Linked DNA regions of Homo sapiens. The protein of the gene in region 2 purifies or fractionates together with the protein of the main gene of each other region. This does not show direct contact. Each region holds a gene or a part of one and is shown on either strand. Other genes may lie near its edges. The genes, in order: KCTD15, PRPF39 and ZNF318.

Evidence for each region.
Region 1: the proteins of PRPF39 (region 2) and KCTD15 purify together in Homo sapiens (affinity purification with mass spectrometry; 2 studies listed by BioGRID and IntAct, with this or other methods). This does not show direct contact.
Region 3: the proteins of PRPF39 (region 2) and ZNF318 purify together in Homo sapiens (affinity purification with mass spectrometry; 2 studies listed by BioGRID and IntAct, with this or other methods). This does not show direct contact.

What each region holds. Positions count from the first base shown.
Region 1 is NC_000019.10:33,805,382-33,815,750, reverse strand, and holds part of KCTD15 (BTB/POZ domain-containing protein KCTD15), read right to left. Parts: intron 8,893-10,369; exon of another isoform or gene 8,889-8,892; coding exon 8,744-8,888; intron 4,505-8,743; coding exon 4,199-4,504; intron 3,961-4,198; coding exon of another isoform or gene 3,949-3,960; exon of another isoform or gene 2,962-3,948; coding exon 2,803-2,961; coding exon of another isoform or gene 2,379-2,802; 3' UTR 1-2,378. UniProt on the Homo sapiens protein: During embryonic development, it is involved in neural crest formation. Inhibits AP2 transcriptional activity by interaction with its activation domain.
Region 2 is NC_000014.9:45,099,241-45,109,609, forward strand, and holds part of PRPF39 (pre-mRNA-processing factor 39), read left to right. Parts: intron 1-3,288; coding exon 3,289-3,456; intron 3,457-8,210; coding exon 8,211-8,376; intron 8,377-9,174; coding exon 9,175-9,282; intron 9,283-10,369. UniProt on the Homo sapiens protein: Involved in pre-mRNA splicing.
Region 3 is NC_000006.12:43,337,834-43,348,202, forward strand, and holds part of ZNF318 (zinc finger protein 318), read right to left. Parts: intron 5,047-10,369; coding exon 4,843-5,046; intron 4,379-4,842; coding exon 4,279-4,378; intron 3,076-4,278; coding exon 2,957-3,075; intron 2,670-2,956; coding exon 1-2,669.

The DNA.
Region 1 (10,369 bases), on a different chromosome or scaffold from region 2:
ATATCCTTTATTTATTCTAAGGAACAGTCAAGCAGTAGCTTTAAAAAAAAAAAAAAAAAAGACACATTTTTTGAAAGATATTCTTAGTGTTGTGACCTGGCATTGGGCCCCTGTGAGCGGGACGGTGGCTGAGACCGCCTGCTGTGGCTTTGCGAGTTCTCTGCACTCACTGGCAGGGGTTTGGTGGGAAACGGGGAAGCTTTGGCATGGTTCTGTCCAGTTGCTTATAATCAAGAATAATGAGTTTTGAGGTTTACAAAGAGCAGAAGTAACATTTATACGGCTGGCATTTGACAAAAGATTGCTGATAATATACTCATTCCAGGAAGTGTAAAAATGCTTTAAAGGAATGATAATTTGTACTTACTGTTTATGGGGACTAGATATATTAGAATTATAGCATCATTATGGGGACATAGTGTTTCCCTATAAATTCAGAAATTCTCTGGTTGATGTAAAATCATACTTCCTGGTTTTACTTAATTAGTAAAGAAATAAATAAATTAGAGTAACATTTAGTCAGGTAGAGTTACTCCTTTTTCCCCTTCTTTATTAATAAATTTTATTTTTAGCACAATCATTTACCCAAAAAGAGAGTTTGAGAATGTTCGAGAATCTCTACCACTCGGTAACCATGCTGGCTGTTATATCAGAAAAATCCATAAACATACACAGCAGCGAGCTGTTTTCACAAGACTTCCTGCTAATAAACACAACACTTTCTCCTCCACTCAGATGGGAGCCTCAGATGCCAAAACGCAGATGTGCCAACTAACTATAGGCTCGTTGCTAAGCAGAGAAACCTATCAAGTTTGTCCAGCAAATTCGATTGTACAGTGGGATGGCGTCTGCTCTGCGGCCTTGGACAGGGAGCCACTGGTCTGTGCTGCTGTCCCCTGAGGCAGGTCGAAGCTGGTGGCCCTTAGAGGGCAGGTAAAATGGTTCTCATGGGTTAGAACATAAGGGCTTTGAGAAAAAATGCAAAAGGTCTCATTGAAATTGGAGGCCTATGTGAATCTGTTTACATGGAGGCATACTGAGATCTCGTTCTGTGCTTAGGTGAACTGCAGGTCTCACGCTGGCTGCATGACTTGGTGCCCCCTGGCTGGCTGAGCCACTGCCTGCCACCTTCTCATACCATTACGTGGGGGTCTAAAGAGGACATCATCCCCAACCAAAGAATAGTGAGAGAGAAAATCCCAAACATTTGAGACAGGGTTCAAAAGCACCCAGACGCCTTCTGTCTCTTTCCCAGTTCCCATCTGGCTAGGGACTGTGAATCAGAATTCAGAATCTGTGCTGCCCTGAGGGGACAGGCACCCAAATGCAATAAATAACACCAAGCTCAGGACCCAGCCACTGACCTTCCTCCACCACTGCTGCGGGTTATTCCTCGATGGGAACTGAAGGATCCAAGGGAGGAATCCGTTCCGCCCCCAAACCTCCCTGCACAACATCGAATGCGGGAGTCTGGCTGCTGCTTCTGCACAGGACAGAGCCTCCAGTCTTTTGCTTGAGAGCATCATTTATGGCATGGACTGGGAACGCAATGTGTTCACACAAATGCACGACAATTGTACATCAGCATCTTTACAATATTAAAGGAGCCATATACAAGTCTACAGCCATTGTACACAGGATGGTGATGGCTGGGGAGCCCCGCCCACCAGTCCTCTGCAGTTTCTCCACCGGAGAACACTTGGGGAGCTGTCACAAGGCCAGGGGGGGTCCATCTTTGGGCCTGTCGTGGGGGAGGCAGCAGGTCTGCAAGGACTCCTCAGGGCCAGTCCTCACTGGAATCAGGGGTCAAGAGCGCCAGGTCTGCCTGTGTCTGGGTCTCATCGGCAGGCTAGTGTAACAACGTGAATTAAAACTGTGCATATTCGCATGAGAAAACTGGAGCTGGGGATGGCTCCCTGAGCTGGGGACCTAGAAGACGCTGCTGACAGATGGGCCCCTTCATGGTGGGGCCCATTCCTGAGGTAACGTGCAGCCCTGAGGCTGGTCCGAACGGGAGGAGACTTCTCCAGCAGCCCAGGTGCCAGTCCACACAGACAGGACTGGAAGCCCCTGGGCAGCAGGTCAGGTGACCCGGGGAGTGCAGCCTGAGCCCCCAACGGCAGCAAACGTGAAGGTCTCAGGTGGTTACAGAATCACTCAGCCCTCAGGCCCCCACCACTCTCCTCCCAGCAGCCCTGCAGCACACATCCCTGCATCTGTCCCGAGAGCCCCAGCCCTGCAGGCATCTGGGCCTGAATGCCAGGCAGCTGGTCCACCCTGCAGCCATGCTGCACGTCTGACTGAGAACTGAGCACCAGATAAAGAAGCATTGGTCCTTGTCAGCCTCTCTGACTTTTGCAGTTAGGGCTGCATCCATTTTAAATACTGTAGAAAATAAGCCATCTCTCGGACGCTAGGAGACCCGCCAGAGTCTGCCCCGCGTGGAGAGGGATAAACAGCTCCTCTGAAGTAGCTGCAGACGGCTCTTCCAACCCCGCCCCAACAGGCCCCGGGGCCTCAGAGGATGCTGCGCCAGGCTGCGAAGCTGAGGGGCTGGGAGAGCTGGCAGCAGAGATCCCACCGCTGTATCTTTGGGTCGCATCAACAGTCCTTCTGCAGGCATGCCTCCAGCATCCCACGTTCTGTTGCCATGACACCTGGGACCCTGGTGCTCGCTGGGCCAGCTTTGGACCCTCCAGCCTCACCCTCGGTCTCATGCCCACGGCCAAGTATACACAGGCAGAACTCCCCAGCACTGTTTCCAGGTCCCTGGGGGGGCCCAGGTGGGCACTGAAGCAGGGCCTAGTCCAGGGGTTCCTGCTTGATTCGAACAGCAGTGGGGGTGGGCTGCGGCCGCCGCTCCTCCCGGCAAAGCACATACTCGCTGAACTGGGAGGAGTCCACACCGCCCCCACAGGACGCAGCCACGCTGAAACCCCTCTGGAACAGCCGCTCCAGGACCTGCCCAGGAAGAAACAGAGGTCATCAAGGCCAAGCTGCAAGAGGACACCTGGCTTGGCCTGGCAGGGAGGTGGGTGCCTGCTGGGGCAGCCAGCAAGGGCACCTTCTCCTGTGACGATCTCAGTCTTGCTCACTGACAAAGGTCCCTACAGAACCACGTGCTGGGTTCCACCACCAGAGGGACAGAAGTGGCCAGGCCCAGTGACCCCTCAGGTTAGCAAACCTAGTTGGACGACCCCACCCAGGCCACCATCCTGCTGCCCTCAGGGCCTTGATTCCGGGAGGCAAAAAGAGGCTTTGGGTCCCTTCTTTATTCTGTAGGGTGTAACCTATGCCCTCTCTCCAGACACATGGCCCCAAGTGTCCTCCCTGAGTCCTGCCCCAATAATGGAGAGTTCCCTGTCCTTCAGCCTCTAGGCATCCACCAGCTTCCCTGAGCTGTGCATTCCAGGTGGTTTGAAGCCTGGGGGTGCATCAGCTCGTGGGAGCTCTGGAGGGAGAGAAAAAGGAGAAGTCCTCTCAATATTTGAGTCTCTGCAGGCGTCCACAACTATGTGGGTTTGTGCCTCTGTGAGGGTGAGGTCTGATGACTGCGTGTAACACCCGTCTCCTGCAACTAGCAAGTTCTGACCGACAGGCTGTGGAATGCGTGCACAGGGGGCCCTCTTCCCTGCAAAGCCCATTCCACCCTAACCCGGAAATGTGCCAAGCTCTTGGGTCTGCGAAGAGCTGTTGGAAAATAGGCCCTCACTCCATCTGAGCTGTCCAATTCTTGGACCCATCCAGGAAGAGCCGGTCCAGGGATTCTCTTGGCAGCTGGTGGGTGCCTGCGACTCCCAGGTCAGCAGGGAGAGGGAAGGGGCTCCAGACCACCTTTCCACTCAGCCTCTGTCCTGCCTCGCCTGTTGCCTGGGTTTAGTTCGAATCCAAAGTCAGACTCTGGGTGTCAAATGAAGCACGCTTTGTTGAAAATACTCTGGGCCATTTTTATAGAACATCCTTTTGGAAAAAAAAAAAAAAAGTACAGATCGATTTTTTTAAGTCCATCCCCCAGGCGCCATCATTTAATTATGAGAGGGACATAAATTATGCATCGACACATTGTTGCCTTTTTTGTAGGATGGCACGGGGGGCTTCACCGTTTCAGGGATCGCGCCTCCCTCCAGCTCACTCTGCCCCTGGAGGGCTCCGCGGACGCCGGGGGTGCGGCGGGGAGGGGGCAGCGTGCAGCCCTCACCTGTACCGAGTTGAGCCGGCAGTAGCCATTGAGCGGGAAGCGGATGACGTGCGTGGGGTCCTGGTTCCAGCCGGCGTTGACGGAGTTGCACATGACGTCTCCGGTCTCGGGGAAGACCTCCTCGATGAGGGCCTTCTCGCCGCTGAGTGCGATCCGCTCGCCCAAGTCGGGCGTGACGCGCACCACCAGGCAGTCACAGGCCCGGCTGCGGCGCCGCTGCTCCTGCTCCTGCTGCCAGCGCTCCAGCTCGCGCACCATGGGCTGGAGCTGATAGTAGCGCGCCTCCTCGTACAGCAGACTGAAGTCCTGGGGACAGGCGCACAGGGTGTTGATGTGGGTGTCGGAGTAGGGGTGGTGGGGGAAGGGGGAGAGGGGAGGCGGCCTGCCGGTTCCAACCAATTCTGCAGGAACTGCGACTCGCAGGGTATTGTGTGGACTGGGCCGGTTGCACCCATTGTACAGATGGGGCAACTGAGTGGTTTGCAAGTATAAAGAACCTAGCCTTGTCCCAAGGGCAGCCGCTGATGTGCACCTGTGCCAGCCCCCCTGAGCCCTTCCATCTGGCCCCAGGCACTGGGCAGTGAAGCCTCCCCATGGAAAGACCTGGAAGCTCCACTAAAGGACGAGGCTGTGCCTATGCCTGGGGACCTGCTGCTGCCTTAGAATCCCACCGAGAGAAGAGATCATGCTGGGCACAGGGCAGCCGGGCCTAGGAGCTCACAGCCTACCCGGAAGCAAAAAAAGTTCTTCTCCAGCCAAGCCTGCCTGGGTCAGATTTTCAGCTTCATCATCAACCTGCCCTGAGACCTCTAAACCTCTATACCTCACTAACTGAGCCTCTTGGTTTTTTTTTCGTTTTTTTTTGTTTTTTTTTTTTGTTTTTGTTTTTTGAGACAGACTCTCTCTGTCACCCAGGCTGGAGTGCAGTGGCTCGATTTTGGCTCACAGCAAACTCCACAATTCTCGTGCCTCAGCCTCCCGAGTAGCTGGGACTACAGGTGCCTGCCACCACACCCGGCTAACTTTTATGTTTTTAGTAGAGATGGGGTTTTCCCATGTTGGCCAGGCTGGTCTTGAACTCCTGCCCTCATGTGATCCACCTGCCTCGGCCTCCCAAGGCGTGAGCCACTGCGCCCGGCCTCAGTTCCCTTATGTATAAAATGGACATAAACAACCAGCTCAGAGAATGAAAGTGAGGATCAAAGGATGCAAGATGTGCCAAGTGCCTGGTCCAGCCCCTGCCCAAACAGGCAGAGTGTGATAAAGTGTCCAGGGAGGGGAAGCCCGCCCCCTGCCACGCAGCCCCCTTCTGGGCTAAGCAGCCTCGCACAGACTGTCCCTCAGGCGCTGATACTGGCCCCATGCCCTGGGCCACATATGCACACTATACACGCTCACACACACCCACCCCACTGGGAATGGCCAAGGTCCCATAGGTCCCCATGACTCATGCCTGAGGAAGAGGCAAGGAAGCCCAGCCCCCTGACCTACAGGCCCTAAGTCCCTTCCACCTGCTGGCCGCCTGGAGGGAGGCCTAGATTCTAACCCTGACCTCTGGGCCTGTCATGGGTCAGTGGCCCATCCTGCCTCTCCTGCCCCATGCAAGGGCTCCTCAGGGCTCTATCCTGGGCCTCTGCTCTCTCCACTCTCACTTGCTCCTGAGATTTTTATTTTATTTTCTTTAGACAGGGTCTCATTCTGTAGCCCAGACTGGAGTGCAGTGATGTGATCATAGCTCACTGCAGCCTTGAACTCCCAGGCTCAAGGGATCCTCCTGACTCAGCCTCCCGAGCAGCTGAGACTACAGGCATGAGCCATCATGCCAGGATAATAATAATAATAACAATAATAATTATTTGTAGACACAAGGTCCAGGCTGGTCTGGAATTCCTGGGATCAAATGATCCTCCTGCTTGGCCTCCCAAAGCACTGGGATTACAGGTGTGAGCCACCTCTCCTGGCCATTCTCCTGAGATTTTAAATGACAACTGCATGACAGACAACCCCATCTTTTGTCATGGCCCAGGATTTCTCCATCTGATGCCCCACCAGCTCTCCCATGCAGGGGCAGAAACCCCACTCCCACAGCCTGGTCCACCCCGGGCCTCAACTTACCAACTCAGAATTCAAGCCACAAGTCCCGGGGCACCTGCAAGAGGCCCTTTACACTACCACAGCCACGTGCTTTTGCAGCTTGCTTGCTTGTTTATTTATTTACTTATGAAAAGTAAATAAATTACTCTTAAAAAACTTTAAAAGTAAAGTTTATTTATTTACTTATGAAACCTTGCTCTGTTGCCCAGGCTGGAGTGCAGTGGTGTGACCTCAGCTCACTGCAACATCCACCTCCTGGGTTCAAGCAATTCTCCTGTCTCAGTCTCCCGAGTAGCTGGGACTACAGGTGCACACCACCACGCCCGGCTCATTTTTGTATTTTTAAGAGAGATGGGGTTTCACCATATTGGTCAGGCTGGTCTCGAACTCCTGACCTCAGGTGATCCACCTAAATCGGCCTCCCAAAGCGCTAGAATTACAGGTGTGAGCCACCGCACCCGGCCTTTTTTAATTAAAAAACAAATTTGTATAGACAGCATCTTGCTATGTTGTCCAGGCTGGTCTTGAACTCCAGGCCTCAAAGGATCCTCCCCATTCGGCCTCCCAAAGTGCTGGGATGACCAAGTGAGCCACTGTGCCTGTACTAAACAGAAGTCTGATGTGCCACCTTGCTCCATCTTCTCTATCTCCATCCTGGTCCATCCAAAGCCTCCACCCAGCCTCCCTTGGCCTGGGGAAGGGGCCTCATCCATAATTGCCTCACTGCACCCACCCCCACCCCTCTCTGCCTTCTTCCCCACCCAACAGCCAGAGAGATCTTCCCAATTTGCAGATCTGACTGCCCTTCCCCTGCACACACCCCTTCCACTGCATTCAGAGTTAAATGCCAGGCACTGGGCCACCCACCAAGGTCCTGACATCAAACAGCAGCCTCCTTTCCTGACCTTCCCCTCCCAGTCCATAAAGCTCCAGGCTTGACACCTTCTTTCCAGTTCTGGAATGCATCAAGCCATCTGCCACCCCCATCCCCTGCACCAAGGCCCTCACACCTGTTTGGCCCCGTTCTGCCTTCACCACCCAGATGAACATCATTTCTTTCAAACCCGCCCAGCCCAGGTCACATGGACTTCAAGTTCAGTATCTGTCTGCCCGCTAGACTGTTAAGTGTTGTGGGGCAGGTCCTAGTGTGTGTGTTTCACTGTTTTCAGCCTGAATTCAGAGGCTGGCACTCAGTAACTGAGCTGGATGAAAGACAAGGCCCCAGGGCTACTGGTCCTCTGGATAGAGGAAGGAATGAAGGAAGGAAGGACAGACATTTGCTAGTATTAATACATGCCAGTGTACCCCAGGCCTGAGTTTCCTTCCTCCCAGAGTCCCTGACATGTGGGAGGGGCTCAGCACTGAGGCATGACCCAGGGAACCAGGTCACCTGCCCTGACGGGCTCACCCGGAGACCTGGGGGTTAACCTTTTGTTTAAAGGGTATCTGTTTGGTCATCAGGGCTTTTCTCCCTGCAAATTGCCCAACACAGAACAGATTTTTTTTTTTTTTTGAGACAGAGTCTTGCTCCGTCATCCAGGCTGGAGTGCAGTGACGTGATCTCGGCTCACTGCAACCTCCGCCTCCACCTCCTGGGTTCAAGAGATTCTCCTGCCTCAGCTTCCCAAGTGGCTGGTATTACAGGCACCTGTCACCATGCCCGGCTAATTTTTGCATTTTTCTTTTTATACTTTATTTTTTGAAGTCTAATTACAGCCGTCCTTTTCTTTCTCTTTTTTGAGACGGAGTCTTGCTCTGTCGCCCAGGCTAGAGTGCAGTGGCGCAATCTCGGCCCACTGTAACCTCTGCCTCCTGGGTTCAAGTGGTTCTCCTGTCTCAGCCTCCCGAGTAGCTGGGATTACAGGCCTGCCACCACGCCTGGCTAATTTTTCTATTTTTAGCAGAGACGGTGTTTCACCATCTTGGCCAGGCTGGTCTCAAACTCCTGACCTGGTGATCCACCCGCCTCGGCCTCCCAAAGTGCTGGGATTACAGGCGTGAGCCACCGCTCCAGGCCTAATTTTTGCATTTTCAGTAGAGATGGGGTTTCATCAAGTTGGCCAAGTTGGTCTTGAACTCCTGACCTCAAGTGATCCACCCACCTTGGCCTCCCAAAGTGCTGGGATTACAGGCATGAACCACTGCACCCAGCCGATGGAACAGATTTATGAACCTCTAACTACTATAACGCTGGCACGCGCCCATCCTTAAACACGACAAATGTTCAGCTGGGATACGTTCTGCAGCTTGATTGTTGTTATATACCCTGATAAATAAGCTAAAAATGTGAGAAAACAAAATTAGTTTAGAAAAACTGATTTAGCCCTCGGCTTCATCGTTTAACTTTTTATGGTTACCATGACAACCAGGGGTCCACTTATTAAGTCACAGCGTCCCCTGTGTAATGCCATCACACAGGCAGTGCAGGGGGGCCACCAGCCATGGACTTACCTTAAAGTCATCCGGAAGCAGCAGCTTGGACGTCCGCAGGAAGCTCAGGACGTAGCGGAAAATCTCCCCATCCCGGTCAATGAAATAATGTTGCTTCAAACTGTCCAGGACGATGGGTTCAGTGCCATTGAAGAGGCGGCTTATCCTGGGAGAGACAGGCGAGGTGGGATGTCTGAAGGGATGGGGACAAGTCTGCCTGTCTTCCCACACCCCGCCCCCACTCCTGAGGGCCCACACGGCTGGAGGGGCGAGGGACCTGACATGGGTGACTCTGGAACTGTTCCAGGCCTGACAACATCTGCACACACCTGGGGCAGCCAGGCTACAGTTAACAGGACACACCACACATCCTGCCTACACCCGCAAGTCACAGCCAGAGAGGGACACACCCAGCTGTACACACCAGCCTGCCAACACACGTTATGTTACAGGCCTGGAAAGGTATAGCAAGACACAGGCACCTTACCCCCTACACACAAACCAGCTGGTCACAGGCCTGGTGCACACACCCTTGCCAGATAGACCCACCCAGAAAATGCACATGAACCATCCAACACCCCGGCCAACAGCCACACACCCAGTAAACGAGCCAGGACATACATCCTCCCCACCCAACCCATGTAAACGAGTGTGAGACACACAGGCCTGTGCAACAGGCACAGGGTCACATGGTCCCTTCCTTCCCAACACACACATATCATGCAGATCCAGACACATCCAGGAAAGGACACACACCTGTCAACACCAGGCACCCAGAGACATGACGGCACAAATCCCCTACTGCCGCTCACTCAGGGAGCCCACAGGGAGAAACAGAGGCAGACAGGAGGGATGGCAAGTGTGCCACAGCACACACATGCAACAGGGCCCTTGCACACATGCCACAACACAGGCATACACACACGCACACAGAAACCATGCACACACATGCACCACAGTGCATACATATGTGCACACATGCCAGAGCGTATGCACACCACACCTAGTGGTGGCGGATGGGGACTGGAGAGAAGGCAGGTGCCGGTACCCTGTCCTCTGAAGGGCAATGGTTCTAACAAATGCAAGACCAGGAGAAGGGTCTTGGGGAGCCCCTGATGCCTGTCCCTGTCCACTCCGGGGAGAAGGAGCCAGGCCTCAGAGCCAGGGCTGATACCACCTCCCCAGTGCCCAGGGTGGCCAGCTCTGGTTTGGCAACTGCCCTGGCAGACCCCAGGTCGAGCTAGGGATAACTAGGAACCCTAAAGAGGGGTGGGAGTAGCCAAGGGCTTGGTTTGGGAACAGGAGGGAAGTTGGCATCATTTCCCCAAGGGCAGCACCACCACATCCTTCAGCAGGCAGGGCCACACTCCTGCCCAGCTGGACCCTGCCAAGGTGGCAGCTTCTCTGCACAGCTGGGAGAACAGTAGCTCCAACTTGGGACCTAGGCTTCCCAGCCCGGCCTGCACACAATCTGGAGCCTAAGCCCCTCACTCTCTGCCTGCACCAGCAGGGACCCCTGCAGGGATGCCCCCTGTTCTAACAGCAGCCCACTCCTCTGTCCACTCCAAGTCAGCCGTCTCCAGGGCCCTGCCCCACTGCCACTTGCACCCAGGACACACTAGCTGGGCAGGAGCTGAGGGAGTCAGA
Region 2 (10,369 bases):
TGTTATTATTATGGATATTCTTATTTTGACAGTTTCCTTGCCTTGATTTTCTCTGTTGTTTTTAATAGTTGGATGTTGGACCTCTTCTTTTAATTACTGAGTTTTTCTTTTCTTCTTCCTATTTTTCATATCTTAGACTTTGTCTGGCTTTTTGAGGTATTTCCTTGACCCTTGTATTGGATTTTTAACATCTTCCATCAGATTATTATTATTTTTTTTTTTGAGACAGAGTCTCCCTCTCTCCCCCAGGGTGGAGTGCAGTGGCTCGATCTCGGCTCACTGCAAGCTCCACCTCCTGGGTTCACGCCATTCTTCTGCACCAGCCTCCTGAGTAGCTGGGACTACAGGCACCTGCCACCACGCCTGACTAATTTTTTGTATTTTTAGTAGAGACAGGGTTTCACCGTGTTAGCCAGGATGATCTGCATCTCCTGACCTCGTGATCCGCCCGTCTTGGCCTCCCAAAGTGCTGGGATTACAGGCGTGAGCCACCACGCCCGGCCCAGATTCTTAATATCCAAGAATCTTTCTTGTTCTCTGAGTGTTCCTTTTTTTATACTCTCCAATTCTTGTTTCATGGCTGCATATCTTTTTGTTATTTCTTTGATGATACTAAGGATAGTTGAGATTTTCCTCTGTTCCCAGGACGGTTTCCTCTCAAATTTTTCTGTTTACCCATTTTCATCTCTGAGATATGTGATCTCTGGATTTTTGTTCCTATTACAGATTAGATATTAACAAGCTATATGAGCCAGGCACAGTGGATCACTTGAGGTCAGGAGTTCGAGACCAGTCTGGCCAACATGGTGAAACCCTGTCTCTACTTAAAATACAAAAAAATTAGCTGGGCATGCTGGCAGGAGTCTGTAATCCCAGCTTCTCAGGAGGCTGAGGTAGGAGAATTGCTTGAACCTGGAAGGCAGAAGTTGCAGTTAGCTGAGATCGTGACATTGCACTCCAGCCTGGGTGACAGAGCGAGACCCTGTCTCAAAAACAAACAAACAAACAAACAAACAAACAAAACAAAACACAAGCATATGGAAGCACTGTGTGTTTTGTATGGGGCATTGTCAGTTGGCCTATGGTGTTTCACAGTAGTGTAATCATGTGGCCACTCTTTTTGCTGGTGGATTCCCAGTGATAGTAACCTTATATCTTATTCCTGAGCCAAGCAGTTTGTTTAGAAAAGGATAATTTTATTTACTTGGGGAATGGACACCTAGCTTCTGAAATCCCCATAGCTGGGCGGGAAAGTTGAAGATTTCTCACGATTCATTAAGTATACCTTCTTCTAAACGTTCTGTCTTCATTTCATTACCTTCTTGTCTTCTTCCCCTTTTCTCCATACTTTTTTCAGTGTCTGGTTAATTTTCTGAATCATTTGGGGTTCTGTAGGGACAGTAACATCTATTTTATTCTTTTGAAAACCTTACACCAAATATGCACATGCATGCATGCACAGACACACATGCTCTTCAATCTTTTATTTCTATATTAAACATATTTCCTCCAATGTTGGTATGTTTTTAACTTTGTTTATGGTGTCTTTTATCATATGGAGTTTTATTTTTCCTTAATGTGCTTCTGTTTTAATTCTTACTGGTTCCTGAGTTTTGTGCCTATTTTACCAAAAATATATAAATCCTGTATTTTGTTCTAACTTTTCTATAGTTTTTTGCTTATTCATTTATCTGAATTTAATTTCTATCTGTCGTGAGATAGACATTAGCCTTTTATATACTCCCACTGTTGAATTAAAGTATCTCCTATATCATACACCAAATACTCACACACATTGATCTCTTTTTTGTTTTCTTGGCTCTGTACTGTTCATCCATTTTTCTGTTACCTGGCCAGTGCCAAACGTGTAATTACTATAGCTTCCTAGTTTCTTATATTATCTTTCAGGAAAATGCCTGCTGCATTATCCTTTTACAAAGTCATTTTGCATTTTTGTATTCTAGATGAATAGTAGAATTTGATTTTTTCTTGTTCCACTAAACATTTTTTAGCGCTTTATTGAAATTGTGTTAAAATTGTGGTTTAACTTAGGGGAGTGTAGTTTTATACTTTTTAAAAATCTCTCTTGATTCTAAGATACTTATCTTGAAAGTATGTATCTAAAAGCTTTATCCCATTGGAGTATTAAATCCAGTGATTAAAATTGCTTACAGAAATCTCTTGACATGACTAGGTATTTTAAAATACTTTGTAACAAACTTTTTTTTTTTCTTTGGAGACAGAGTCTTGCTCTGTCATCCAGGCTGGAGTGCAGTGTTGAGTGGTGCAATTTCAGCTCACTGCCACTTTCGCCTCCCAGGTTCAAGTGATTCTCATGCCTCAGACTCCCGAGTAGCTCGGATTACAGATGTGCACCACAACGCCTGGCTAATTTTTGTATTTTTAGTAGAGATGGGGTTTCGCCGTGTTGGCAAGGCTGGTCTCAAACTCCTGGCCTCATGTGCTGGAATTACAGGTGTGAGCCATCGTGCCCAGCCTGTGATAAAACTTTAATGATAGAATTTTAGAATTGAGAGGGGCTTTTGAGAGGTTTAAAGTATATGTATACTTTTTTTTTTTTTTTGAGACAGAGTCGCGCTCTGTCGCCCAGTCTGGAGTGCAGTGGTGCAATCTTGGCTCATTGCAACCTCCGCCTGCCGGGTTCAAGCAATTCTCCTGCCTCAGCCTCCCAAGTAGCTGGGACTACAGGCATGTGCCACCATGCCTGGCTAATTTTTTGTATTTTTGTAGAGATGGGGTTTCACCATGTTGGCCATGTTGATCTTGAACTCCTGACCTAAGGTGATCCTCCCGCCTCAGCCTCCCTAAGTGCTGCGATTACAGGCATGAGCCTGTAATCACGCCTGTAACCATTTCACCATGCCTCATGAAAATATTCTTAAATTGAGATAAAATTTGCCTCTCTTTAACTTCCTACTTGTTTTAATTTTGTCTTCTGTCATAAATCAATCTATACAATAGACATTTCAGATTTAACAAATACTTACATGTCTACTCTTACCTATTTGCAATGTGTACATTTTGTATTTAATTTTCTATTTGATAAAGTTACATAAAAAGTACATTTATCTATTCTCTTTGTTTTCTCACTCTTTTTAAGCAGCTGTTGTATGCTTTCTGTTATTCTGTCTACCCTTTAATCCCTACTTGCATAGGAAGCAGTTGAATATAATTTTTGAAGTTAGCATTATCTTCTAAATTTAGAAATAATATTTTAAAAGTGATTTTATCTTGGAAAGATAACTTAAGAGTAATTTAATTTTTCAGAACTTTTGAGCATGCTGTTCTAGCTGCAGGAACAGATTTCCGTTCTGACAGACTGTGGGAAATGTATATAAACTGGGAAAATGAGCAGGGAAACCTGAGAGAAGTTACAGCTATATATGATCGTATTCTTGGTATTCCAACACAGCTGTATAGTCATCATTTTCAGAGGTAGGTGGGAAATTCTGATCATTGAAACATCTTTGATTACTCAGATAGTTGGTAATATTAAGTATTATAATTATCTTGGAATGTTATGTAAGCTTTTATTATGTGGAAAGAGGAATAAATTTTGTTGCTAATCACAACCTACATGCTTGCTTTTGACATTTTTTCATATGCCTTATGAAATGTTTAGAAATTTTACTGTTTTTAGATAGAAGTTTCTCCTTATTCATTTTAATGGATAAAGAGAAACAGGAATTCTGTCTTGTCTAAGGTAGTTCAGAGTAATGAAGGAATGAGAAAATAGTACCTAAGTTGAGTTATTTATTTATGGCATTAAATTGACACAGTGCCTGGCACATGATAGATGCTTATTTTTTTTGAAACTTAATGATTTGCTAAATATACATTATTGTGATTGCTATAACACCTTATATCCAAAACAGTGAAGGATGCATTTTATATAGTAAGTAGTATCTATTTTCAAACACTCAGGTATCATTCCATTTTAATTTTCTAAAATGATTTTTCTGTTACAATTGGTATCCTTTTATTTTAATGATTACTGTTAAAACAACTAATTCTGTGTCATTATTTTTGTGTTCTGTTTTCTGCTTTATTCAGAGTATCCCATAAATAAGGATCCAGAAAGTCTTTCTGAACGAGTATGAGGACTGTGTCTTTGCTTTTAAATTGGCATGTTTTCTATTTTTTGTTATAATTTTTATGAGTAGTATTGTATAAACTTAGTATTTTCTATTTTTTGTTATAATTTTTATGAGTAGTATTGTATAAACTTAGGTACTTTTTAAGTGAGTGATTTTCTAAATTTTTTTTTTAGTACCAAAAGTAGAAGACTTTTATGAAGCATTTGTAAAGTACTAAGGATCAATGTGCTAAAGGTAGAAGTTATACAGACTCAGGTTAGAAATAGGAAGCATATAGATAGGAATATTCTCTCTGCTCTTGATGAAATAGAGGAAGCAGGCAGGTTTCTAAGGTATAACGACCTAGGAAGACACTTGCTGAAAGATGTTAACACAAGTAAGAATTGGCATATGGAAATGCTTGGTAAATAGTTACCAAACACATAAGTACAAAAGTACTTAAATTACCTGATGGGCCAAAGAGGGTGTCTTTTCATAGACTAGTTCTTCTGTGATTTAAAGTATAGGAAAAATCTATGACTACAAGAACTTTACTGATGATGGAAAAAAAATATTTGTAGGAAACACACATAGCATTTTCTATATCCCAGACACTGTGCTGAGTGCTTTGTAACTCACTTAATCCTCCCAGTAACCCAGTGAGGCAAGTACTATTGTTCCCATTTTATGAAAGGGGAGACACAGGGAGATTAGCATATTTATCTAAGGCCACAGAGTTTGTAAGTGATTGGAAGCTACTTGGAACTTAGACAGTATGGCCCTGAAGTTTTTGATATGTTCTCCTACAAATCTTTTTTATTTCTAAATAAATATCCCACTAGGCTTTTATTTATTTATTTTTCTTTAAGTTGTCAGTTACCCTAGGCTTTTAAAAATGCATATATACTTACAATAGATATTAGTGGGATTATATTACACATACTGATCTATAATCTGATATTTTTCACTTAATGCATTTAGAACCACTTTCCTTATCAGTTATAGTGAACTCACAAGTAATCTTTATGCAGTTCTTATAGTTTATATAAGTTAATTCACATGACTAACTGCTTTGAGAACCACTGAATGTTTTGTTTTTTTTTTCCATAACACATGCCTCTTTCTTAAAGTCATTTATTTAGCATTTGCTGTGTACCTGTTGATAGGCTATTTAAGTTGTAGGAATGAAGGCCCAAAGAAGCCATGTGTAAATAGCGTTGCCTGTGAGTTGGTCAGAAGGATAGAGGAGGAGGCGTGTGTTAAAAAAGATATTCTAAGTGGTATACAGTAATAATGGAAATATTTTTATTGTGCTTGTGCATTAGGCTTGTACCATTGGATGTACCCTGCACATTATCTCTGAGATAATGTCTAATTTAAATCCTTCTTTAGCATGAGGACTTTGTGATCTGGTCTAACATCCAGGTCCAATCCCTGGTGGTTCCTGAGCTCTAGACACACCTAAGTCTGATAACTTCCCAAAGGGCAGTGTTGTTTTATATCTTTATGACTGTAATACCTTTTCCTCTTTCCACTTGTCTAGTGGACTTATATTCCCTGAGACCACACAGTTTTGTGTCTTCTCTGTGAAATTTTCTCTGGTTCTCCTATACTGAGATACCTAGTCTGTTATTTGTGCCATGACTTTACCTACATTTATTTACATTTATATTAGCACCAGTAACACTGCTTTGAATTTATGTCTCTTATATCCTCAACATGCCTGTCAGTTTCTGAGGCTTAATTCTTTGTATCTCTAATATTTAGGAATAGAGCTCAATATATATTAGGCAGTCAGCCAGTCTTTACTGAATAAATGTTAGCTTTATAATACAAAAAACTGCTGAAAAAATACTGCTTAATATTATGCACATTTTGTCACTGTTTTAAAGAAGTTGTTACATGATGTAGCAATAAGTCATTTTAGATTTATGTACTGTATGTAGTTATTTTGAAATTTTACCTTAAGTTTTTAATTCATTTGTTGACCATTCTGAGTTTTAATATTCATCTGTAATTAAATCTGTTTTTTCATACTACATATTTGAGAGTTACTTCCTTATTTTTAATTTTTTAACATAAGGCAATCTTTGTTAATTTTTTTCCACCTGGTGCTGAAATGGGCCGTTAGCCTCTGTATCCATTGACTTTGCAAAATTTAAATTAGATTCCAATGTTATTTATATACTTTTTTTTTTTTTTTTTTTGAGGTGAAATCTCGCTCTGTTGCCCAGGCTGGATTGCAGTGGTGCAGTCTTGGCTCACTGCAGCCTCCACCTCCCAGGTTCAAGTGATTCTCCTGCCTCAGCCTCCCGAGTAGCTGGGATTACAGGTGCCCGCCCCGACACGGAGCTAATTTTTGTATTTTTGGTACAGATGGGTTTCAGCGTGTTTGCCAGGCTGGTCTCAAACTCCTGACCTCAGGTGATCCGCCCACCTCAGCCTCCCAAAGTGCTGGGATTACAGGCGTCAGCAGGCGCCTGACCTGTTTGCTTACTTTTTAGTAACATTTCTGATAGTAGTATAGAGGTGGGAATGGGAGTTGTGAGACTAGAGGCTGCAAGGTCATTTTATGTTTATCCAGCTTAAAAGTCCCGAGGTGATGAACATGTATTTAAAAGGTACAGTCAGTAGGACCTGGTATCTAATGTAAATGAAAAGCTAGGTGGAAGAGATTGAGAGATGTAGTGGTTGACAGTACCATTAATCAATATTAGAAATGCTGAGGGTGGCGGGGCACGGTGGCTCACACCTGTAATCCCAGCACTTTGGGAGGCTGAGGCGGGTGGATCACCTGAGGTCAGGAGTTCGAGACCAGGCTGCCAACAAGGTGAAACCCCGTCTCTACTAAAATTAGAAAAATTAGCTGGGCGTGGTGGTGCGCACCTGTAATCCCAGCTACTTGGGAGGCTGAGGCAGGAGAATTGCTTGAACCCGGGAGGTGGAGCTTGCAGTGAGCCAAGATAGAACGATTGCACTCTAGCCTGGGCAACAGAGCAGGACTCCATCTCACACAAGAAAATAAAGAAAGAAATACTGAGGGTATTCATTTTCAGATGAAGATGCCATACTTATTTTAAAATATTTCATATTTGAGGTTCCAAAGGTATATTCAAATTGTGATAGTGTAGATATTTTAGCTCCTCAACCTGGTATTTTTGATTACAATTTGTATGTATACAAATTATTGCATGTTTTTATAAAATAGTGAAATGATATTTTTTTCAAAAATCTTTTTATAGATTAGCTTAAAACTAATCCACATTTCTTTGTGCAGAGTATTGGCAGTTGTATATGCTAATGTGATTAGGAGAAAGGTTTGGACTTGTGTTGTAGTTTTGAGAGTCATCATGGTATACTTATTTCAAGCTGTATGAATGAGATTGGCCAGAAGTATGTATTAATAAAAATAGATGAGAACCAAATGGAGAGTGGAATACTTGGGTATAGTAGCATTTAGGGCAGGTAAGAAGGGGAATAAGACATAGAGCAGCAGTCAGAGGCTTGGAGGACCATACTACAAAACAAGTGTCCATTTAATTTTATATATGAGGTAATTGATAATCTTAATTGGGCAGTTTCATTGGATTTTTGCGTACTCACATGTGGATGAGGAGTATTTGGGAGGTGGGAAGGAAATGCTATATTTGTTGGTTATTTACAAGTGATCATTTAGAATTTAAATATGGATTACAGTATTTAATTTTACTGTAACTTTTATGTCTTTGTAGTAAAATAGATTCTATGACACACGAATAGGTATTATCATCTTATTTTACAATTGAGGAAACTAAGATTTAGAGAAAAGAAAACCTTCCCTAGTCAGATAACCAGTAACAGACAGAACTGAGGTTTGAATTTATGCCCGTCCATGCCTTCTCCATTCCACTGTAAAGGTAGGAAGAAATTGAAGATGTCTATAGACTGTTTTATCATATGGTAGTGTTTTATCATATATGGTAGGATTTTACTATAGAAAAGAAGGAGAAAAGGTATGATATTTTGGTTTCTTTTTTAAATCAAATCCTTTGAAAGAGTAGTATATAGTAGGAATCTCAATATGAGATCTAAAATTATGATTCAAATACATATATTTTTATTGTCTTCCTTTAGATTTAAAGAACATGTACAGAATAATTTGCCTAGAGATCTTTTAACTGGTGAACAGTTTATTCAGTTGCGAAGGGAATTAGCTTCTGTAAATGGTCATAGTGGTGATGATGGTCCTCCTGGTGATGATCTACCATCGGGAATTGAAGACATAACCGATCCTGCAAAGGTAACCAGTCTTATTCTAAAGTTCGTCAGTGGCCAGGTATGGTGGCTTATGCCTGTAATCGCAGCACTTTGGGAGGCCAAGGTAGGCGGGTCACCTGAGGTCCGGAGTTTGAGACCCATGTAGGCAACATGGTGAAACCCTGTCTATACTAAACATACAAAAATTAGCCAGGTGTGGTGGCACATGACTGTAGTCCCATCTACTTGGGAGGCTGAGGTGGGAAGATTGCTTGAACCTGGAAGGCGGAGGTTGCAGTGAGCTAAGATGGCACCACTGCACTCCAGCCTGGGCCAAAGAGCAAGACTCCATCTCGGGGGGAAAAAAAGGTCTTTAGTGCAGAAGAAACTGGACCTGTTATCCCTTGACTCCATGAGTGGCACAGTGATCACTTATATAACTGGCCATTTACCCAGTGACTTGTAGCTTGTTTGAAGTTAATTTCTGATTAAGGCAAGTGGGGATTCAGTAGCTTGTATGTATAGATTTAAGGTAGAGAATCTATTTTACTACAAGACACCCCAAAAAAAACTTAGCTTAGAAGGAATATTTTGCCTAGGTTGTGTATCTACTAGCCCAATTTAAGAAAAAAAGAAAAAATATGAAAGTGGTTAATTAGGAAGTTGTGTGATAAGTTTTAGTGTTGTTAATTGGATTTTGCACATAATTGCCAACAGTTAAAAATCTACCACTATTCTAAGACTAAAATATCTGTGAATAATACTTAAATATAAGCAGTGATATTGAAAATTTTCAGTATACAGTTTGTGAGATTTATTTTTTTCCCTTTTTCTTCCCAAGCTAATTACAGAAATAGAAAACATGAGACATAGAATCATTGAGATTCATCAAGAAATGTTTAATTATAATGAGCATGAAGTTAGTAAAAGGTGGACATTTGAAGAAGGTGTAAGTGTTTTTGTTTTGTAATAGTCTTTAAAATACAAAGTAGGAATAATTTATTTTTCTTTCAATTTTGATAGTACTATCTCTGTTGTAACTTTATTTTTGCATATTTAAGCCATAACTTCAGATGTTTGTCTCATTTATTGTAATCATTATCAGTTTTTCCATTTTCCCTGATGAGTTTTAGAATGTTTGAATCCAGATTTACTTGAATTGCAAGATATCTGCTTAATCTGAACAATTTTATTCTAATTGTTCAATTTTTAAAAGTCAACTTCTTGGGGTTATACTTTACATACATTACAATTCACCCATTTTAGATATATAGTAAAATGAGGTAATTTCCCACAGTTTTAATTCTTTGGTTTTTTTTGACTGCTTTACTGAGATATAATTCACATGCCATATAATTCACCCATTTAAAGTATACAGTTCAATAGTTCTTAGTATATTCACAGATATGTACAACCATCACCACAGTCAATTTTAAAACATAATCACCACCTCAAAAAATAACACCTTAACTTTTAGTTGTCACTACCCCTACCTCCTCAGCTGCGACCCTCTACCCCCAGTGCTAAGATACCACCAACTGCTTTTTGTTTCTGTAGATTTCCCTATAATGGCCTTTCATATGAATGGAATCTTAGAATATGGAATCATTTCACAGATATATGTATATACATTGTAGTCATCACAGCAATCAAGATACAGAACTCTTTTAGCACTCCAAAGGTCCCCTTGGCCCCTTTCCAGCCAGAGTTCCCCTCTCCACTCCTAGCACTAGGCAGCCATTGATCTGCTTTCTGTCACTATGGTTGTTCAATTTTAAAATATTCAACAAAGTATAAAATGTTCTGTACATTAAAAAGCATGTAATTGGCAAAATGGCAGAATAGAGAGAAAATGTATTATTTCATTTGTTTGTAAAGCTTAAGGAATTTAAGGGTTAATTTTAAAAGTTTTTTAAATTATGAAATATGATTAAAAATTTTAATCATCAATTATATTTAAAATTATTTGTATTAACACTGTACATGTGCATATTTTGGTGATATTGGTTTACTTTCATTGGCATGTTACAATTTCA
Region 3 (10,369 bases), on a different chromosome or scaffold from region 2:
TTACACCCTATAGGTGATACAGAATTTTCTTCACACACTTTCTGACACAAGACAGTTGGGGATCTATGTGCTGGGCTTACCCGAGTAGTGCAGAAATCAACAGGCATATCCCCCAGATTCCCCAGGGCAGTAAGCTCCTCTACCTTTAAGTCTGTAGCTTCAAAGTCTTCTAGGGCCTTGCTTTCTATTGTCACTGTTAACTCTGGATGGACATCTTGTAGCTCCAGTGCTTCTGTTTTTGGTTTCTCTGGGCTCTCCCAGGTCTCTGGCCTCTTCTTGTTTTCATCCCAAACAGCCAACTCATAGATCTTTTTAACTTGAAAGTCTTTTGATCTTTCTCTCTTGAGTTTGAGACTTCTGTACCTAGAAGTTCTAGAAGCTGATTCTGGAGCTGAATTCTCTAGCCCCTCCTCACTAACAACTGAAACTCCTTGCTCTTGTGGACTACCTGTTAAACACATAGCTGATCTGGCTGGGGAATGAAGCAGCAACTCTGGGGCAGAAATTTTCACAGGTGTATCTTGTGGGTTGAGTAAAGACCTAGCTTCTGATAAAAATGAGTCTAATTTTGCCTTTGTGAAAGAGCAAGCCTGTGGACTCAATTTGATCACTACTTTACTTGGAGTTTCACTTCCTGTCATCAATTTATTGGACTGTTCAGCCTCTTTGTCAATCATTAGCAAGTTGGGCTGTTTTACTTCTCCCTCCCACATGTATCTGTTTCCATGGTTCAAATTAGAATCATCTATGCTGTGGGGTCCAATGCTGGTACTTACTCCCTCATCAACTATCCCCTCAGACAGCTCCTTTACCCTTTCTTTTAGTTCAGTGTTTGTCTCTATCTCACTTTCTCTACAATCCTCAGATTTACGGAGCTCTTGGCTTTCCTTATCCTGGTTAACAGATTCTCTGAGGTGGATTTCTACCAACTTCTGAGATTCTTTGCACTGTATATCTAACAGTTGAGGAGGTGGTTCTACACCAGGTGGTCCTGGCTCTCCCAGGTCAAGCTCACTCTTCTCTGGAGATATATCCCTACTAGTGTCACTCTGGAAGGAACTAGAGGTCCATATGGCCAAAGTGTCTGTCTTTGGGGTAATTGTTTCATAAGGCCTGCTTTGGCACAACCTTGTCAGAGGCTGTAGGAAGCCATAGGTGCTGCCTGTGCTTTTTGGGCCTACATGTTCTACAACTGACCATTTCCCTAGGGCCACCAGAGTTTTTGCAATGGGCTTTTCAGAGTTGCTAACTATAGGAGCAGCGACCAAACCCTCATCTTGATGCAACTCCTCTTGGGATGCACTGCTGTTCAAAGGAGAAGTAGAAGAGGTGTCTGAACTTTTGGTTCTAGAGAGGTTGCTATTTTCCCCATTGGCCAATGGACCACCACTTAGCTTAGTCTCAGGGGCCCCCTTAGTCTCAGGGGCCCCCTTTCCACCACTACTATAGAATATGTCATACAGGTCCTTAGCATTGGCTGTGGCTAAGCATGAATTTCGCTTCTCTAATTTTTTGGCTTGTTCACTGAACACACTTGAGAGGGGTGGTGGAGGACGTACTAACACAGAGAACAGGGTCTGGTCTCGGTCACTCTCACTCACCCCAGGAGCTGTCTCATCAGAAGGAATGGCAGCTGGCTGTGCTGAGGCCATGATGGCTACAGGCAACACTGGGTTCAAAATGTTAGGACCCACGAAGCCAGGGCTGAGAGTCTGAGATACAACTGGGTTTGATTTTACTGGAGCCAAGATAGCATTTGCTTGAGCAGCAGACGGGGCAGCTGGATGAGGTATAACGGGGGGTGGTGGAGGTGGTGGAGGTGGGGGTGGTGGAGGAGGTGGTAGTATTTGTTCAGGTAAATGAGATGGCTCACTCTTTTCAGCCAACACCACTTTTTCCTCTGGAGACCCTTTTAGAATCACCTCTTCCCCTCCAAATGCTTTGGAGATGATGTCTGGAGGTAAGAGGAGATCAGCTGAAGACTCTTTAACCACTGGCAGAGGTTTAGCAGTGGTTCCAGAGGACTTAATAGACAGAAAGGTGTTAAGAGGAGCTGGCTTGCTCATTGTGGCTGAACATGACTTGCGGAGTACTGTGGATGGAATAGGCAGGTTGGGTCGGATCTTAGTCTGTGTGGAAGTTGTCACAACAGGCATCCAAGGGCTGGTATGTGCAACAACAGTTTTCCCAGAGAGCTTGATTTTGATAGGCTTTGCCTTCCCAGCTTCAGTTTTGCCATCCTCTTTGTCCTTACTACTTTCTAGAATCTCTTCTTTAGAGATACTTGGGGTCACCAATGAACTTTTCTCCTCTTCTTTTTCTGGCTTCTTCCAGCTGAATTTCCCAAAAGAAGATGATGTTGGTGATTCCTTCTTTACCTCTTCTTTTAACTGGAGTTTGATGCCAGTGTTCCTTTTATTTTCAGCTTTTTCAGGGGAGTTCCTACCCTCAGAGAGTTGGTCTTCTAATTTCTCAGAGACCTTGTCATCCTCCTTTACTTCTTTCACAGCCTTTGCCTTTTTTTCTTTCTTCTCCTCCTTTGGTTTCTCACTAAGTTTGCGCTTTAGCTCACTCTGCCGTCGCCGTTCTGTCTCTAGGACCACAGCCAAGCCAGCTTGGCGGTCCAGATTCCGCCGCTCCTCATATAATGGGTTTTCATCCACATATTTCTGGGAAGAAAAAAGATAAAGACTCAAAAACTGGTGAAAATACAAGAGAAAAAAATCTTGGCCCCGCTACTGTTAGAATTCATTTAGTAGAAATCCCCAGAATTATCTTCCTCAAGGACATACGGGATGCTATCTGCTGAGCATCTCCCACTAGGATTGAGGAGAACTTAGAGGTTATATGGAATTTGAAGTGTCAATGGCTTTTTCTGGCTCGGACGCCATTTGACAAAGTCAAAATAATTACTTCAGAAAAGTTGGAAACTCCACAGCCTACTACAAAGACCAACCTTGTATTTCTCATTGTGTTGGTGACCCTTCACATGTTGCTCCCCAGAAATTGGATCCCCCAAAAATTCCTCACAGAGCTGGCAATAAAATCCACTGATGGGAACCAGAAACTCAGAGCCTGGAAGAAGTAGAAAAAAGTCAAGGAAATAAGTCGATTCCACCCAGAATGACAGCAACCAATGGAAATCCCACCACCCCTTTGCAGTAAAATGGTTACAGTATAGAGGGCCTTACCCACTTTGAAGTCAGAAGCAGTATTTAGATGAATCCCAATGGCACAGTCTTTCCAACCTAAGGCTTGAACTACAGTCCTCTATTTCTTCTACCTCTTGGGAACATTATACTGGTTAATTTAGGAGTTTCCTGTGCCAGATTAATTCCTGTTGCTGAGTCTCCTCAAACCCTAACTAGCACCAAGCATCTCAGGAAATATAAAAACTATACTCCCAAATAGCCCATTACCATTTTATGATGATCTCTCATGTTGGTATTAATTACTGAGGAAACTATCTTCTGTAAATCTCAAGGGTATAGTAGCAGCACTAGCTACTTGTGAAGGTAAGAAATTGAAAAGTTTATGGGCTGAGCACAGTGGCTCATGCCTGTAATCCCAGCACTTTGGGAGGCAGAGGTGGGCAGATCACGAGGTCAGGAGATCGAGACCATCCTGGCTAACACAGTGAAACCCCGTCTCTACTAAAAATACAAAAAATACAAGGCATGGTGGCAGGCGCCTGTAGTCCCAGCTACTTGGGAGGCTGAGGCAGGAGAATGGGGTGAACCCGGGAGGCGGGGCTTGCAGTGAGCAGAGATAGCACCACTGCACTCCAGCCTGGGCAACAGAGAGAGACCCCATCTCAGAGGAAAAAAAAAAAAAAAAAAGAAATTGAGAAGTTTAAAGACAAAGGAAGTTTCTGCTTCTCCACTTACCCCTTAATAACAATGACTCAAAATATTGTATAGTTCTTAGTTGAAAAGGCAGTTAAATTACTGCATCTCCTGTCCTTTTTAACCTGGATTCCAAACAAGTAAGATTTTGGGCCCATAAGCCAATGACAAAGACAATTCTGTTTTAAGTGACATGTCTATGTTTAACATCTGTGAATAGATTTTTGGCCATATGGGTAGAGATCATGGTCTTATAGATCTCTTTATAGCTTCAGGACCTAGTACACTGTTTTGTACACAGAAGGCATTCCTACGGCTTTGTTAAAAGGAATGGCTGTCTCATGCTATGCTGCTTCCTACAATGTTAGTTCAGGGACACCTCTTCCTCAACTGAATGTAAGGAAACCACAAAGGTGGCAAAAAGGAAACATACCTTTTGCAGGAACAGTTATCTTGTCAGTGCGCTTTATGGCATCTTGCTTGGCCTCACTCTGGGTCTTTGAAGCCCAAGGTCTGTTGTAGGGATCCAGTGTCTATTTGTAAGAGGCAGAGGTGCTCACACAACAGCACTAAAAGCTCAATGACCCACTTTTCTCTTTTTTTTCCCCCATAATAAGACCAGGGGACCAGAAGCCCCCAGCTACCCACCCCCACCCCCTCTGCCAACTGTTTTAATGGAAATCACCTGTGGAAAAGGTAAACACATGTTAGAGCAAGTACCAGAAAAAGGTAAAATGAAACAAAAAAATCAGGTACTCAAGGAATCAAAAGAGGCAGAAACCTCACTTACACTTGTCATGGTGTTTAGTTACAGCCAAGTCCCCTGGACTGAGCCCTGGGGATGGTGTCTCCTTTGTTGGTGTCTCTTGGCTCTTCAGACTGGGGCTCCTGCCCATATGAGAATGTTTCCTTTTCCAGCTTTGCAATGCAGATAGGGGTATAGAAGTTTGAAGAGAGTGAGGGTGGGAGTGAAAATAACAGAGAGTAGGATACCAACCTGTGTGTGCTTCTTATTGTGCATATGAGTGAAGAAATCAAACATGGTCCCACAGATGGTGTTGCAGTCTTTGCACCAGTGATTGCCAGCATCATAATACTCATAAGCAGCAGTGGGCTGATCCAACTGCTTAGTGGCTGACTGGGGGCTTTCGGCAGGCTTGGGGCTCTTAGTACGAAACTTCTCATTGTTTACTTTTGATTCCTAGAGGGGAAAAATCTGTACTTACAAGGAATTCAAGGCAATCTAGACTTGTCTTCTGTTAGAAATAGTAAGTGGCCATAATAATAGAAATAGGGCCATATGACCATATTTCCAATGTTTAAAGCTGCACAAGTTGGGGGGAACCCTAACAGAAACATGTCTCTAAGACATAGAACTATTTGACTTCATAGTGCTATCACAGCATAAAAAGTAAATCATAATGGCAATATATTTACTTACATATCCTAAAATATCTCTAGAAGAACAGCCAAGGTTGTGGAAACATTGGCTGCCTCTGGGGAAGGGAAGTGGAGAACAAGGATGGGTAGGAGTCTCTTCACTGTATACCCTTTAGTAAATGTTGAATATGTTACCTATGCAACTAAACAGTTAAATTTGAAAATCATGACAGCTAGGGAGGGAAGAAAAACCAATATGGAAAAGGTAATTGACAGGCTAAGCAAAGCAAATGCAGAAAATAGGTGATAGTGAACTCATCACATGCATCCTGGTATGAAAAACTGGAGAGAAGGGTTGGTGTACATAGATAAAGTAGACTATACAACTACACATAGATAAAGTCATCTATGTAGAATGATTTAAAGGAATCTAGGAAAAACATTCCTAACTGCCTAAAATATCACTTTTAGAATTTAACAACTTTAGAGGCCAGGTGCAGTGGCTCACACCTGTAATCCCATCACTTTGGGAGGTCGAGGTGGGCAGATCACTTGAGGCCAGGAGTTCGAGACAGGCCTGGCCAACATGGTGAAACCCCATCTCTACTAAAAATACAAAAATTACCCGGGCATGGTGGTGTGCACCTGTATTCCCAGCTACTCGGGAGGTTGAGGCACGAGAATCACTTGAACCCAGGAGGCGGAGGTTGCAGTAAGATAAGATTGTGCCACTGCACTCCAGCCTCAGCAACAAGTGAGACCCTGTCTCAAAAAAAAAAAAAAAAAAAAAAAAATTTTAACACCGTTAACATGTATCCTTTTTAAAAATATATCAACTTCTTAATATTAAAGTTATCAACAGCAAATACTTTAATATGAATTAATTTATTACCAAGCTGGAACAAGGCACTCAGGAAATGAGAATTTTGGTTAATGTTCAGGAGTAAGGCACAGGAAAAAAAGATAATTTTTGCAACTCAGAGGCTCACTATGAATGGGGTTCTATAGTACACAAGATGAAGAGCTGGGTACCTGGAATATTGGCTCACGCAGGGAAAAAGGTAGGATACAGAAAGGGAAACAATTGGGGCTTCAAAGATACTCTTTCCCTACCTGAGTCCTATTCAAGAATCACTAAAGAAATCACACCAGACAGGCAGGGGATGGGAGAGTTCATACACTCCTGGTGGGAGTATTAACTGGCACCATCTTCTAGAAGATAATCTAGGAATACATTACATACCTCAAAATACTGTATACCCTTTAACCCAGCAATTCACTCCTTGACATTTATCCTATGGAAATTATCATGTCAAACAACAGGTGATTTGATTGGTTAAATAAATTTTGCTTAACCATGCAACCAAAACAACAAAAAATAAGGTTGTTAAAAATGGTATTATAGAAGTGTATTTACTGACATGGAAAGATGTTCATGATATACTGAGAAAACTAATAAAATACACTTGAATAATCAACAAAGATATGTAAATCGGCATACAGCGTTGAATATCACTTTATCCAAAATACTTTCTCTAACCACTCTATACTCCTTATCCTGTTTTCTTTTTTTAGGCACTTCTCATTACCTAACATGGACTTATTTATTTATCATCTTCTGCTATTTAATGAGAATATGAACCTTGTCTATACTGTTCAGTGTGATACTTCCCATATCTAGACCAGTTCCTGACACTTTATTGGTGACCAATACATATTTGTTAAGTGAATTGATGGACAGAATTAATACTTTGGTGTATGTATTTGGAATAACATACACCAAGGTATTAATAATAAATTAATGTATTTGGAATATATAATAATACCTTGGTGTATGTATTTGGAATAACATACACCAAGGTATTAATAATATTATACACCAAGGTATTAATAACAGTGGTCTCGGCTGGGCCCAGTGGCTCATGCCTGTAATGCCAGCACTTTGGGAGGCTGAGGTGGGCAGATTACTTGAGCTTAGGAGTTCGGGACCAGCCTTGGAAACATGGCGAAACCTCAACTCTACAAAAATACAAAAATTAGCCAAGTGTGGTGGTGGTGAGCACCTGTAGTCCCAGCTACTGGGGAGCCTGAAGTGGGAGGAATGCTTGGACCTGAGAGTTGGAGGCTGCAGTGAGCCATGACTGTGTCACTGCACTCAACTTAGGTGACAGAGTGAGACCCTGTCTCAAAAAAAAAAAAAAAAAGTAATAATAACAGTTGTCTCTAGGTAGATGAAATTACAAGTTTGTATGTGCTTTTCTGAAATGAACAGAAAGGGAAAGAAAATCTCAAACCAACTATACATTTTAAAGAGAGGTAAAGAAAGAAGAAATACCAAGGACAGGTAGGAAAGAAAGGCTGTGGACATAATATTCCTTACTGCTGAGATGAAAACTGAATTGTAACATATCCGTTAGTTTCAGAGACCATGAAGACGCACCCAAATCAAGATGACAGATTATCATTGGGTTCGTACATGAATAGAAATCCAATGTATAAGTCAATTACAAAGGACCAGAGCTTTTAAATTCTTCTCCCATCAAAGGCCCTACCTAGACTGAAGACCCAGGTATAAAAGACTAGGCCTACCTGGTTGAGAAAGAAAACTCTCCTAGGAAGACATGGAAAAAAATAGAGCTTGGGTGATAACACAGAATATATTCTCTTTCCTACCTCTCAATATTAACTGAGGATGTACTATGTGCTAGACATATTGTATGCAATGGGAAACACAAAGATAAAAAAGATTCCTCTTTTATCCTCTCGGGCCAGGTGGGGTGGCTCACATCTGTAATACTAGCACTTTGGGAGGCTGAGGCGGGAGGATCATCACTTGAGCCTAGGAGTTCAACACCAGCCTGGGGACGGGCGCAGTGGCTCATGCCTGTAATCCCAGCACTTTGGGAGGCGGGGGCAGGTGGATTACCTGAGGTCAGGAGTTCGAGACCAGCCTGGCCAACATGGTGAAACCGTCTCTACTAAAAATACAAAAATTAGCTGGGTGTGGTGGCACACGCCTGTAACTCCAGCTACTCAGGAGGCTGAGGTAGGAGAATTGCCCAGAAGACAGAGGTTGCAGTGAGCGAAGATCACGCCACACGCCACAGAATAAGACTCTGTTTCAAAAAAAAAAAAAAAAAAAAAAAAAAAATGCTGGGCAGGGTGGTTCACGCCTGTAATCCTAGCCCTTTGGGAGGCCGGATCACGAGGTCAGGAGTTTGAGACCAGCCTGGCCAATATGGTGAAACCATGTCTCTACTAAAAATATAAAAATTAGCCGGGCGTGGTGGCACGTGCCTGTAATCTCAGCTACTCGGCAGGCTGAGGCAGAAGAATTGCTTGAACCTGGGAGGCGGAGGTTGCAATGAGCCGAGATTGCGCCACTGCACTCCAGTCTGGGTGACAGAGCAAGAACTCTGTCTCAAAAGACCAGCCTGGGCAATATAGCAAGACCCCATCTTTAACCAAAAAAAAAAAAAAAAAAAAAGCAGCTCTCATTTAGTGGAGACAGACGTAAGAAGAGTCTTTAAATAAGACAACGAAATAAATTTTACAAAGAAACAAATTACAGAGTGCTAAAGAAGGCTGACTAGATCTGGGTGGAATTCTGGAAATTCTTCATGGAAGAGGTGGTATCCAAATTGGGCTTTAATGGGTGAGTGGGGTTGGGAGAAAGATTATTCCAGGCTAATAGGATTATTTATGCAAAACCAGAGAGGTGTAATACCAGATATTGCACATCCGGAAAATTGCATTTTGAGGTGACGCAGCGTAAGATGTAATATAATGTTTCTTCAGCAGTATTCATTACTATGTGCTGGGCCCTGGGCTATATATTGGGAATCATATTGAACAATGACACATATAAAGTCCCTGTAACTTTTGAACCTTAAAATCAAATTAGGGGAACACATTTAATTATAAAATCAGATCTGTCATAAATGTTAAGAAGGAAAATTACAAGATATTATGGGAGTGTATATCAGGCAAATTTAACAGTCTAGGGAATCAGAGAAGGATGTCAGGGAAGTAATTTAAGATCCAATCTAAAGGATGAATTGGAGTTAGAAGAGTAGATAAGGAAAGAGTTCGATTTGCATGGTAAAGAAAGGGAACAGAAAATGTGAGGTCACGAGAGGAGATGATACATTTGAGGAATGAAAAGGTTAGTAATGAAACTACAGTCAGCAAGAAGGAAAGAGGCATGAAATGAGGTTGAGGAGGTAGGCAAGGGATTAAGTATCATGATCACTGGCTATATGTGCAAAAAGAGTTAATTAACACAGCAACATAAGCAAAAACTGATGTGGCTTGGACTTGAATGTCAATGGAGATGATAAGGTGCATGGAATCGAGATTTACTTTGGAGAGGGACCTGACAGAATTTGTAATTGATTGCATATGGAGCAGTTAGGGAAAGCAGAGCACTGAGAGTGACTTTTAAGTTGTTGGCATGAAAACTGTCGGACAGTATGCCATTCATTGAGAATGCATAACAATGGAGAAAGAAAAAGTTGGAAGGAGGTTGAGCACAACCATTAATTTAGTTTAGGACATGCTCAATTTCAAGTGCCTATGAGATAATGAAGTGGAAATGGTGAGTTACGTTGTTAGACACTCAGAAGACTCATTTGACTAGAACATAAAACTGGCAATTGTCACATGGCATTTTAGCATAGGACTGGATGAAATGGCCTAGGAAGAAAGAGCAAATTCTGGCAAGGACTGAGCCCCGAGAAACTCAAAAATTTAAAGATTATGCAAGAGAGACAGCAAAGGATACTAAGCAGGAGCATCCAATGTACTACGAGGAAAAGAAGTGTGACAGAAGCCAAGGGAAAAGAGTATTTGTAGGAGAAAGTGATTCTTGGCCTCAAATGCTGCTCATTTGAGAAGTAAAATGTATTTACTGACTTTAGCAACACAGTAGTGACCTAGACATGAACATAGTTGCTAAATATGAACCCCCCAAAAGGGTATATACAAGTTCTGAGAAGATCAGAAGCCAGATAGGAGTGGGTTAGGGAGTAAATGCTGGAACAAGAACATAGAAGGTTCTGAATACTGAGGATTTAGGATTCTTTGTGGGCAACAAGGAACTATGCTGAAATTCTGAAGAGGAGTACCACACTCTGATCTATACT